Linked DNA regions of Homo sapiens. The protein of the gene in region 1 interacts with the protein of each later gene in a biochemical or structural test. Each region holds a gene or a part of one and is shown in the gene's direction. Other genes may lie near its edges.

Evidence for each region. The genes of interacting proteins can lie anywhere in the genome.
Region 2: the proteins of GPX7 (region 1) and CPEB2 form a complex in vitro, tested with the Homo sapiens proteins (one study listed by BioGRID).

Annotation. Positions count from the first base shown.
Region 1 is NC_000001.11:52,605,344-52,609,559, forward strand, and holds the end of GPX7 (glutathione peroxidase 7 precursor), read left to right. Parts: intron 1-1,340; coding exon 1,341-1,602; intron 1,603-2,918; coding exon 2,919-3,082; 3' UTR 3,083-3,708; downstream 3,709-4,216. UniProt on the Homo sapiens protein: It protects esophageal epithelia from hydrogen peroxide-induced oxidative stress. It suppresses acidic bile acid-induced reactive oxygen species (ROS) and protects against oxidative DNA damage and double-strand breaks.
Region 2 is NC_000004.12:15,054,468-15,061,502, forward strand, and holds part of CPEB2 (cytoplasmic polyadenylation element-binding protein 2), read left to right. Parts: intron 1-3,953; coding exon 3,954-4,072; intron 4,073-4,719; coding exon 4,720-4,834; intron 4,835-7,035. UniProt on the Homo sapiens protein: May play a role in translational regulation of stored mRNAs in transcriptionally inactive haploid spermatids. Binds to poly(U) RNA oligomers. Required for cell cycle progression, specifically for the transition from metaphase to anaphase.

The DNA of each region.
Region 1 (4,216 bases):
ATTGGCAATGTCTGGAGACATTGTTGATTGTCAAGACTGGGCATCTAGTGGGTAGAGGCCAGGGATGCTGCCAAACATCTGATAATAAATAAACAGGACATCCCCCCGACAACAAAGAATTATCTGACCCAAATGTCAATTATGGAGGATAGGGCTAGGCTGCCTAGGCACCGGCTAGGGTTTTAAATCCATTAATAATATATACCTAGAAGCTAAAAACATAGCATTTGAGCCAAAATTCTAATCAAAGTCTTATAATCAAGTTCCATTAGCCAGCTTTGTATTTATTGCCTAAAGGCTTTAATAAATTTAAGGATTAGTCTAATGATAAAAGAAAGTGGTAGGCTGGGCATGGTGGTTCATGACTGTAATCCTAGCACTTTGAGAGGCTTAGCTGGTAGGATTGCCTGAGGCTAAGAGTTTTTGAGTCCAGCCTGGACAACATGGCGAGAACTGTCTCTACCAAAAGTAAAAATTAAAAAATTAGCCAGGTGTGATGGCACGTGCCTGTAGTCCTAGCTATTTGAGAGGCTGAGGTGGGAGGATCACTTCAGCTCAGAAGTTTGAGACTGCAAACGGTTGGGGGGATGTCCTGTTATGATTATGCCATTGCTCCAGCAGCAACAACAACAAAAGTGGTGTTAGTTCTCTGGAGAGGAGGGGGACAAAAAGGTGATTGCCCTGGAGTTATGAGGGTTCTTTTCTCAAGAAAACCTGTGTCTATGTTCCCATGCAGGCGTTTGTGTTTGTGTGCACACTTACTCATTCATCTGAAACTTACTGAGACTTTTTCATATGCCAGGCCCAGAGATGAAGTGGACATAGCTCCTGCCCTCAGTAGGTTCACATTCTAGAAGGGAGACTGACACAGTGCAGAGTGGCGAGTGCTAGCTGACTGAGCCAAAAATTGAGCCCAGGTCTCCCTTTGTACCCCCTCTTATCAGTTCTCAGTATGTGCTCACCAGTATGTGTGCCCCAGTCTGTGGATGTGCTGTGTGTGTGGGCATGTGTGGTGTTTGCTAACATGTTTGTATCGTGGTGCATGTGCATACCTATTTATGTATGTTGTATACTTATGTTCACAGATGTTCATGTATGTGTGCACACATCTGTAAGCTCCTGAATGTTTGATTTCATATGTGCCTGTCTGTGTGCATGTGTTTGTGTATGTGTGAGAGCACTGGACACACATTTACATATGTGTACACAGTGTTCTTGTATGTGTGAGGCAGTATTAACTGTTGAGGGAGTCACATATGTGGATGTGTCAGGGCATGTACAGGTTCATGCCTCTTCACTGGCTTGTCTGGGCTTTGTTTTGTTTTGTTTCTGTCATACAGGTGTCCCTGGTGGTGAATGTGGCCAGCGAGTGCGGCTTCACAGACCAGCACTACCGAGCCCTGCAGCAGCTGCAGCGAGACCTGGGCCCCCACCACTTTAACGTGCTCGCCTTCCCCTGCAACCAGTTTGGCCAACAGGAGCCTGACAGCAACAAGGAGATTGAGAGCTTTGCCCGCCGCACCTACAGTGTCTCATTCCCCATGTTTAGCAAGATTGCAGTCACCGGTACTGGTGCCCATCCTGCCTTCAAGTACCTGGCCCGTAAGTCCTGGTCTCTTCATCCCCTCACACCTCCCTTAGCTGGCTGAGGCCATGGCTCCCTGGGCAGCAGAAGCCACTGGCTGGTTGGGTGACCTGGGGCCCCTTCCCCTTCCTGATCATCTCAGGTGGACTGATGCTTTGTTCCAGCACTAATCTTTGAGGAGAGTGGAGGCAGGTAGAAGCTGAGGGGTATTCCTGCCTAAGAATATCTCCATACCTGCTGCCTCTCACTTGTCCCTCAGAAGTCACTCTTTTGGACTTTTCTGGGATCCTGTTTTCACATTCAGGGGCTCCTAGAAGGAGACATTTAAGTCAGTGTGAACTAGATGAGTTTATGGACATATGATGGAGAAACCAAGGCATAGACAGGGGAGGCCACCTGCTTGGAGAAAGCTGACCAAGATAGTAGACAGGCATCTTCACCCTGAGTCAGTGGCGGAGTCTGTAGGCCATGGAGGGAGACCTTCTAAGCTAAAATACCAGATCTTAGTATTTGAGAACAAGATCCCTTCTCCAGCTGCAGAAGCCTCAGAGCCACAGAATGGGCTCATGGGCTAAGCTTGCCATTCTGACCATTTCTTCCCTCAGGCCTTCTCCTCTGGAGGCCCCATTTTTGCCTTTTCTGATTCCGTGCTTCTGGTGGCCTTTGTATCCCTTGCCACCACCCCACCCTGCAACCCATTCACCTGGAGGAGTAAATGAGAAGCAAGAGTGCAGCAAACAAAAGGTCCCTTACTGCGGCAGGTTTGTGTTTTGCTCTGTGGCTCAGTCCTAATGTTGATTTTTTTCTCTGTGTTCTTTTATTAGTTCCTTCCCAGTTCTCACAGTTATAGATCAAACCCGGCCTTGCTTTTAGAAGCACCTGGGGAGCTCTTAAAAATGCACAAGGCTGAGACCTACTGAAGCAGGGCCCAAGAATCTTTATTTTAAGCACTCCCCTGACCCCCAGTGATTCTGATGAAACCAGTCCATGGACTAACATTTGGAAACCATTAAAACTGAACTAGAGAATAGGGTGTAGACTATTCAGTAGTTCGAAGTCATTAATAAAGGAGGATTTGATACCACTTTATCAAGCACGTCACAGAATCCTACAGCAGTCGTTCTCAACCTCGGCCCCACTTTGGAATCTCCCAGGGGGCTTTTGAAAAATGCTGATGCCTGAGCCTCACCCTCAGAGATTCTGGTTGGAGTGGTCTGGGGTGTGGACTGGGCATCAGGATTAGCTGCCACCAGGGAAAGATGGACACTGAGAGTGAAGTCCCAGGAGAGGGTACGCAGGGTAGCACGCTTTGCTCTCCTTCCTTTTTCTCTAGAGACTTCTGGGAAGGAGCCCACCTGGAACTTCTGGAAGTACCTAGTAGCCCCAGATGGAAAGGTGGTAGGGGCTTGGGACCCAACTGTGTCAGTGGAGGAGGTCAGACCCCAGATCACAGCGCTCGTGAGGAAGCTCATCCTACTGAAGCGAGAAGACTTATAACCACCGCGTCTCCTCCTCCACCACCTCATCCCGCCCACCTGTGTGGGGCTGACCAATGCAAACTCAAATGGTGCTTCAAAGGGAGAGACCCACTGACTCTCCTTCCTTTACTCTTATGCCATTGGTCCCATCATTCTTGTGGGGGAAAAATTCTAGTATTTTGATTATTTGAATCTTACAGCAACAAATAGGAACTCCTGGCCAATGAGAGCTCTTGACCAGTGAATCACCAGCCGATACGAACGTCTTGCCAACAAAAATGTGTGGCAAATAGAAGTATATCAAGCAATAATCTCCCACCCAAGGCTTCTGTAAACTGGGACCAATGATTACCTCATAGGGCTGTTGTGAGGATTAGGATGAAATACCTGTGAAAGTGCCTAGGCAGTGCCAGCCAAATAGGAGGCATTCAATGAACATTTTTTGCATATAAACCAAAAAATAACTTGTTATCAATAAAAACTTGCATCCAACATGAATTTCCAGCCGATGATAATCCAGGCCAAAGGTTTAGTTGTTGTTATTTCCTCTGTATTATTTTCTTCATTACAAAAGAAATGCAAGTTCATTGTAACAATCCAAACAATACCTCACGATATAAAATAAAAATGAAAGTATCCTCCTCATTTTCCATAGTCTCCCTCCCTAGAGGTAAACAGTGTTAGCAGTTTGGTACAAAGGCTGCCAGGCCTTTGGTTAAGCCAATCATTATTGCCCAATAAGAACTCAGTGACCGGGCACGGTAGCTCACGCCTGTCATCCCAGCACTTTGGGAGGCCAACGTAGGTGGATCACCTGAGGTCAAGAGTTTGAGACCAGCCTGGCCAACATGGTGAAAACCCATCTCTACTAAAAATACAAAAATTAGGCTGGGCGCGGTGGCTCACGCTTGTAATCCCAGCACTTTGGGAGGCCAAGGCGGGCGGATCACGAGGTCAGGAGATCGAGACCAACCTCGCTAATACGGTGAAACCCCGTCTCTACTAAAAATACAAAAAATTAGCCGGGCGTGGTGGCGGGCGCTTGTAGTCCCAGCTACTCTGGAGGCTGAGGCAGGAGAATGGTGTGAACCCGGGAGGCGGAGCTTGCAGTGAGCAGAGATCGTGCCACTGCACTCCAGCCTGTGCACTCTAG
Region 2 (7,035 bases), on another chromosome or scaffold:
TCATAAAATATAAATTTATGAACAGTTGAAATATCAGATTTACATTAAATGTTCTAGATAACAGCAGAGCAGTAGAAATTATTACCAACTGTTGATGAATAAATAATTTAGATAAAAGACAAAGTAGCTAGTTGGGTCTATTTTTTTTTTCAATTATATAAAGATGTAAAACTTGAGGAAGATGCTTAGTTATGTTAGTCAGTTATTGCTAGGAAGACACCGTGGCTGATCACCACAGGACAAGAATTACAAATTGTGCTAACCTTCACATGCAAGTCGCATGATCAAGTCACCATCTGTGGGGAGAGGAAGTATATCCTGCCCCCAATAACAAGAGGAAGAGAGGAGAAAGGAGTCTTGAACATTAATTCAGCTAGTCAGAATTGCTAATGGAAGGTTCTCTGAAATGAATAAAAAAAAGAGGGGAGGTTCAAAGATTAAGACTTTACTTTAAACATTGCTGAAATATAATTTTAGAAAAAGCACACCACACATACTATTCAGTTTCATGACTTAGTGAATTGTCAAGCCTGGAGAAAAGACCCCAATAGAACTGTTAAATGGTTTGATTTTGACTCTGGGAAATGAAGCATGATAAAGAAGTTATTAGCACATAAAAACTAGGTACAGGTTTCTGGTGATGAATTATATGAGTCATATCTACTTTCTGCCATTGAGAATTATAGAACCTTCACTAATAGTTCACATAGTTTTTTAGATAAATGGAGTAATGCAATGTTTTTTTAATACTTGCAGATTCTATATGTATGTAGGGAATCAAGAGCATCTTTTGAGTAGGGATTCTGGATCCCAGGCCTCTATGAGAATCTGATTAAAGCTATCTACCTCTCTCCATGTAGTCTGGAGTTCATTGGAGGTCACAAAACCTTGGTATAGACAGGAAATTATCTCCACATAGATAGAGATGTTTATTTATTAGCTTAGTTTTAGTGTTGTCCATAGTTTTACTCTCTTGCCATTTCATAAAGTTTACTTTATAAATGCCATTTTTATTGAATACTCAAGAGTATTGAGTTATTTTGTAATGTTCCCGACTAAGCTACCATCATCACTTGCCTGGACTGCTTCAGCTGTCTTTCTAGTCTCTCCACATCTCTAGCCCTCTTCAGTTTTCTCCTATCGTCCAGTCACAGCAGTCTTTGAAAACTCATTGGATGGTGCTATTCCTTACTTACCTGCATAAACCCTTTAATGGTTTCTCTTATTTTTAGGATAAAAGCAAAAATGCATTCCTTCTGCCTGGCCTTGCCTTCTTTCTAGCTTCTTCTACTATTGCTGCTTGTTTCCTTCCAGTCCCACAAACTGGCCTTGTTCTCTCCAGCCTCAGTGCTTTTATGTATGATACTCTCTAGACTGATTGTATCTCTTCCTTAGGTCTCTTTATATATTCCCTACTTATCTTTTGTATCTCAAGCTTAAGTGTAAGTTGATCACAGAAAACATTGAGGATCTACCAAATGAGGTCAGTTCCTCCTGCCCAACTCCTAGTGCTGTCTGTGTCTTTCACTCCTAGCACTCATCACAGTTGCAGTATTACATTTTTACAACTTTAAACATTTGTAATTATTTTATTAATGTCAGTTTCTTTCAATGGTCTGTAAAATAGTGTCTTTATTCACCTTTGTGAATGTTCATATTCTCAATAATTCACGGATTGTTAACTGCCTAATAAATGAGATAACAAAAAATACTATAGGGTGGAGAAATTACTTCAAGTAGATGGGGGAAAGCTTCACTGAGAGGTTTGGAATTAATCTAAGGTATTGTATATAGATAGATAAAAAGCACTTGAACAGCGTTCCAGGCAGGAATGGAAATAGAATTTTAAAAAGGAATTAGAAATTGTTTGGATGGAGAAAGATGCAGATTTTTGCATGAGCTACTTGTTCACTTACAAGGATGGTGTACTTTAAGCCTAGAAAGATGGGATGGAACATATTTAATGAAACAGAATAGTTGTTGTCTTTATTGGTATTGTTGCTATCGTTATTGTGGTTTTGCAGTATTTAGTTTCTCTAATCGAAAAAATAAAATTGGCACTGGCAAATCATAGTTTTTTTGGTACAATTACAGTTAAATGTAGACATTTCCAAAGACCAGTATCCCCAAACCTTGTTCTTTCAAGCAATTTTATTATTTCTGTAATTCAGCATTTTCCATGGTTTGGAAAACACTGGTATAGAAGCATCCAGTGGGTGAAGCTACCTTGTAATTACAGCAGTGACTAGAGTCCCTTAGATGCTAAGCCACACATGTACGTAAGTTTCCTTTGCAGTGAATAACCTTCACCTTAAGTGATTATTAGCTTGCTTTAACAAATTCGAAAGAAGCTATTATGTAGTATGTTTTTGTTAAGAATATTTTAATATCTAATGACTTGCATCAGGTAAGTCATAATTTACCTGATATGGCTTAATTTTTGTAATATAAACATTCCCTAATAATAACAAAAATTGAGCAATATTAAAGATATTGAATTTAGAGTATTACTTTAAATTAAGCAATATTAAAATATTAATATCAAAAATTATGAAAATTGGCCAACATTAAAATATTGAATTTAATATACTATTTTAGTAAATTGGTCTTATATCCTTTTAATTATTACAAAATACTTGTAGTTCCCAGATTATTATTTTGTATCAAAATTAAAGCCTTAAAAAAATCTTCATTATTTTCAAGAATATTGAAATTGTTTCCAGCAGTGTAAAAAATCTAAGACATGTTTTTTAATCCTGTGTAATCTTACCTTTGGAAGTTTGTATTTATATAGGGTGAAATCATTTATATAAGGTGAAATGGCTCCAGGTATTTTTTATGCAAACAGGTATTTTTATTTTATTAAAATGAAGTACTTTAGTGTCACATCAGACTTTTGTGGCATAAAGCTATGGTTGACAATAAGCTGAGTTTTCTGACTTCAGTAAAACATGACCTTACATTTCCCATTATACGATGGAACAGACATACATGGCTTGCCTGATGTCTGCTTTGTACTGGGACTAGATTAAAATGCTGTACATTTGTTCGCATAGAAATCTTGCCAAGGTAATGGATAGATCATTTATAGCTATCACCTGCTGGGAATAATCACATAATAGTAAACTTGCAGTGTAAATTTTGATGCCTTCTTTTTATAATGTAGTCTATTCTGTCTGCTGGATACATGATTTTTTATTAAAGATTGACAATTGGTTGTTTACAAGTCTAGATAGTCTCCAGACAGTTTGAAAAATGTATTCCACTGCTTTCCAAGTTGAGGCTTGATTTAAAAGTTTTGATCCATCTGACCCATGTTTTATTAAGGAACATGTTTCATTCCAGCCTTCCTACTGTAGCTTTCTTAGTATCATTGGGAAGTTTTCATGAGACTGTGGAATGTTTCCTCTGCTTAGGGGATTTCCTGGACCTTTCCAAGTGCGTTCCAGTCTAAAAGTCTAGAACTTGGATTAACCTGAGGGCATTTATAGCAAACTCTAGCTCCAGATATACTCACCTGGTTAATTCTGCCAAGCTCTTTAAGAAGGTAGTATCACTACTAGAAAGCGCATGGGAGACCTTGGGGCTGACCTCGGTTTGAAATTATTCAACCATTTACTATGAGACTGACTTTGGTGGTACTTTGATTTTTTTCTTCTGTAAAACAGGAATAATATTTCATAGACTTTTGAGAATCAAATACTAATGCATGTAAGTTAATACAGTATCTGATAGCAAGTGTTCTATATAAAGTAGCCAATTGCTTTACTGAGTATCTGTTTTAATGTGTATTACATAAGATATTGTGTTCTCTTGTAGAAGGTAAATGGTTTTTCATCCTATTTGATAGTTTGTTTTTTTTTTTCAAAAGCATGTATTTTCTAAATAGTACTGAAATTTGGAGTAAAATCACTTGGCTTGACATATTGCCTCATCTTTAATGGTTATTCCAGGCTATGCATTTCTTCTCTTTCAAGAAGAGAGCTCAGTTCAGGCACTCATTGATGCTTGTATTGAAGAAGATGGAAAACTCTATCTGTGTGTTTCTAGCCCTACTATCAAGGACAAACCAGTAAGTAAATACCACATGAACTTCAGGCTACAAATGCAAATTTTTCAAAAATTGTTTTGAAATGATTGTTAATTAATAAAAGAACAATTAAACTACCATGTTGAGTTTTAGTTTTTGAAACATCCAGATAATTTATAGCAGGAGTCCCCAACCCCTGGGCAGTGGACCAGTACTGGTGGTCCATGATCTTTTAGGAACCAGGCCACACAGCAGGAGATGAGTGGCAGGCAAGCCAGCATTACTGCCTGAGCTCTGCCTCCTGTCAGATCAGAGATGGCACTCTATTCTCATAGGAATGCGAACCCTATTGTGAACTGCACGTGCGAGTGATCTAGGTTGCATGTTCTTTATGAGAATCTAATGCCTGATGATCTGAGGTGGAACACTTTGATCTCGAAACCATCCTCCACCACCTCCATCCTTAGAAAAACTGTCTTCCTCAAAATTGGTCCCTGGTGCCAAAAAGGTCAGAGACTGCGGATTTATAGTATCTAGATCAACAAAAGTTATAAAAATAATTTGTTTCCAGATCCCACTATACAAATTTTTAAGCAATAAAAGAATCACTATTAACTGGCAAAAACAAACAAACAGAAAATTCTCATAAGACATCAAGGGAGTAAGACCCAATGTAATTTTCTTCATAGGTTCAAATACGTCCTTGGAATTTAAGTGATAGTGATTTTGTAATGGATGGTTCTCAGCCTTTGGATCCCCGAAAAACAATTTTTGTTGGAGGTGTTCCTAGGCCATTAAGGGCTGGTAAGTAGAATGTTAACAATTTTGTTTAAAAAAATCATTTAAATATGTCCTAGTCAATTTAATAAACGTTTGGAAGCTATTGTGTACATGACACTATTGGACAGAGCAGGAGCAGATTCTGCATGCACCAATTGCTGCTAACTACAGAATTTTGAAACAAATTCTGAGGCCCCCTCTTGAAACTCTCCAACTGGAGAATTGGGTACTTATCTATCAATATTAGTGCAGTAGCTAACTCAAAGCAAATCTATAAGAATCCACCTAAATACTTCCGATTTCCTAAGTGTACCTCTCTGAGATAAGAGAATTTGGGGTCTGTTTATTTTGTGTAGATCGATTCTGATATCTGAAAAAGAAATATGGGATTTTTTTCTCTTTTATCTATATTTTAATCATTAAAGTAGCACTTTAGATAAGTGAATGATGATAAACTTCTGTTTATCAATAACTAGGAACCAAAAACCTACCAAAATATGTCACAGAGGAATATAATTGTAGATGTATATGCCCACTTTGCACTTGTTAGATGGTACTGTGCACCATGTGTAGAGTGTTAGTGATTTCCATCACTGAGAACATCGTCTCCCCAGTCATAGAGATATATGTTAAAGAACTATTCATACATGGAAATACTTATAGAATATGATGACTTCTACAAAGAAGTACTATAGGGAACAGAAGAGCATGTAGCAAGGAAATATGATATCTGATATCTTGAAGGTATTTGAAGTCTGATATCTTGAAGGTATTTGTAGTTGAGCTGACATATAAAGACTGGGCAAAAGGAGTAGGATCAGGGTGGTAGCAGGGTTCTGAGGAATGTGTTTCACAGAAAGGGAACAGCTTATTTAAAGGTCTTGAGTGGAGGGAAACAGGGTGCTTTGAAGGAACTGAAAGAAGCCCAAAGTGCCTGACTTGGGATACAAGGAGTGAGGGAAGGGGTCAAATCATACAAGTCTAATAGACTAACTCGGTATTTATTCTCAGAGCAAGGGTAAACCATTGAAGAGTTTTTAAGCAAAAGAGAGACTTCATTATCTTTGCAGTTTTCAAAGTTCACTTTAGCTAATGATTCAGAGAGAGGGGGGCCAGGGTGAGAGTAAATGCGGGCAGACCAGTTTAACATCCTATTATTACAATCCAGGAGATAGACAATGGTGGCTTGGATTAGTGGTAGCAGTGGAGAAAGCCAACTGAACAGAGGTGACAGATGTTTATGAGGTAGACACAAAGACTGAATCTCATCTTTCAGTCATAAGCCACTGGGTGGATAGTGATGCCTTTTACTGAGATGGAAGGAAAACTGGAGAAGGAGCAGATAGGGAGGGAAGATTGTGGTCTTGGTTTTGAACACAAGTTTATGGCACCATTCAGAGCTCCCAAATAGAAATTTCAATTAAACCATGGTATATGGTATATTTTTTTATGTATTTTTATGGTGGTATCTGGTGTATTTTTTAAGAGAATCACTCTTTATACTGTTTTAAAAAGCTGGGAAGGCAAGGGCCAAAAGCAAAGAGAGATAAGGTTATTGCCATGAACCAGATGAAAAATGATGTTAGCATGAATCAGGATGTTAGTGATGGAGGTGAGGCAATTGGACTCTAGATATGTTTTAAAATCAAGTTTACAGGATTGCATGTGCAGTATGGAGCAAGGGAAGAATACAGAAAGAATGAAGCCAAAGATCTTGACAACTTCATCTTTTCTGTTGCTTTCTAACTGGGTCAGCAGAAACTCATTGGAGCAGGTTTAATGGGATAAGGGAAGATTATGAGTTCCATTTTTAATATACCGAGTGTGGCCAGTGCCTGTTAAATATCGAGTTGTCCAGTAGACAGTTGCATGTACAAGTCTGGCATCCATGGGAGAGGTCCACACTAGAGATAAAAATGTAGGAGCTTAAAAACATATAGATGGTGTTTAAAGCTATGATACAGGATGAAGGTACCAAAGCCAGGAGTGTAGATAGTGTTGCAAGGATTGAAAGTTAGGGTACTCTGACATTGAAAAGTTAAGGCGTTTAGGATGAACTATCAAGGAAGACTCAGAAGAAATGTATCAGTGAGGTAGGAGCAGAATTAGTGGGATAATATATTCTAGAAGCCAGATGGAGAAAATATTTGAATGAGAAGGAAGGGATTAATTGTGTTCAATGCTACTTACAGATAGATTGACCATTGGACTTGGCTTGAACAATT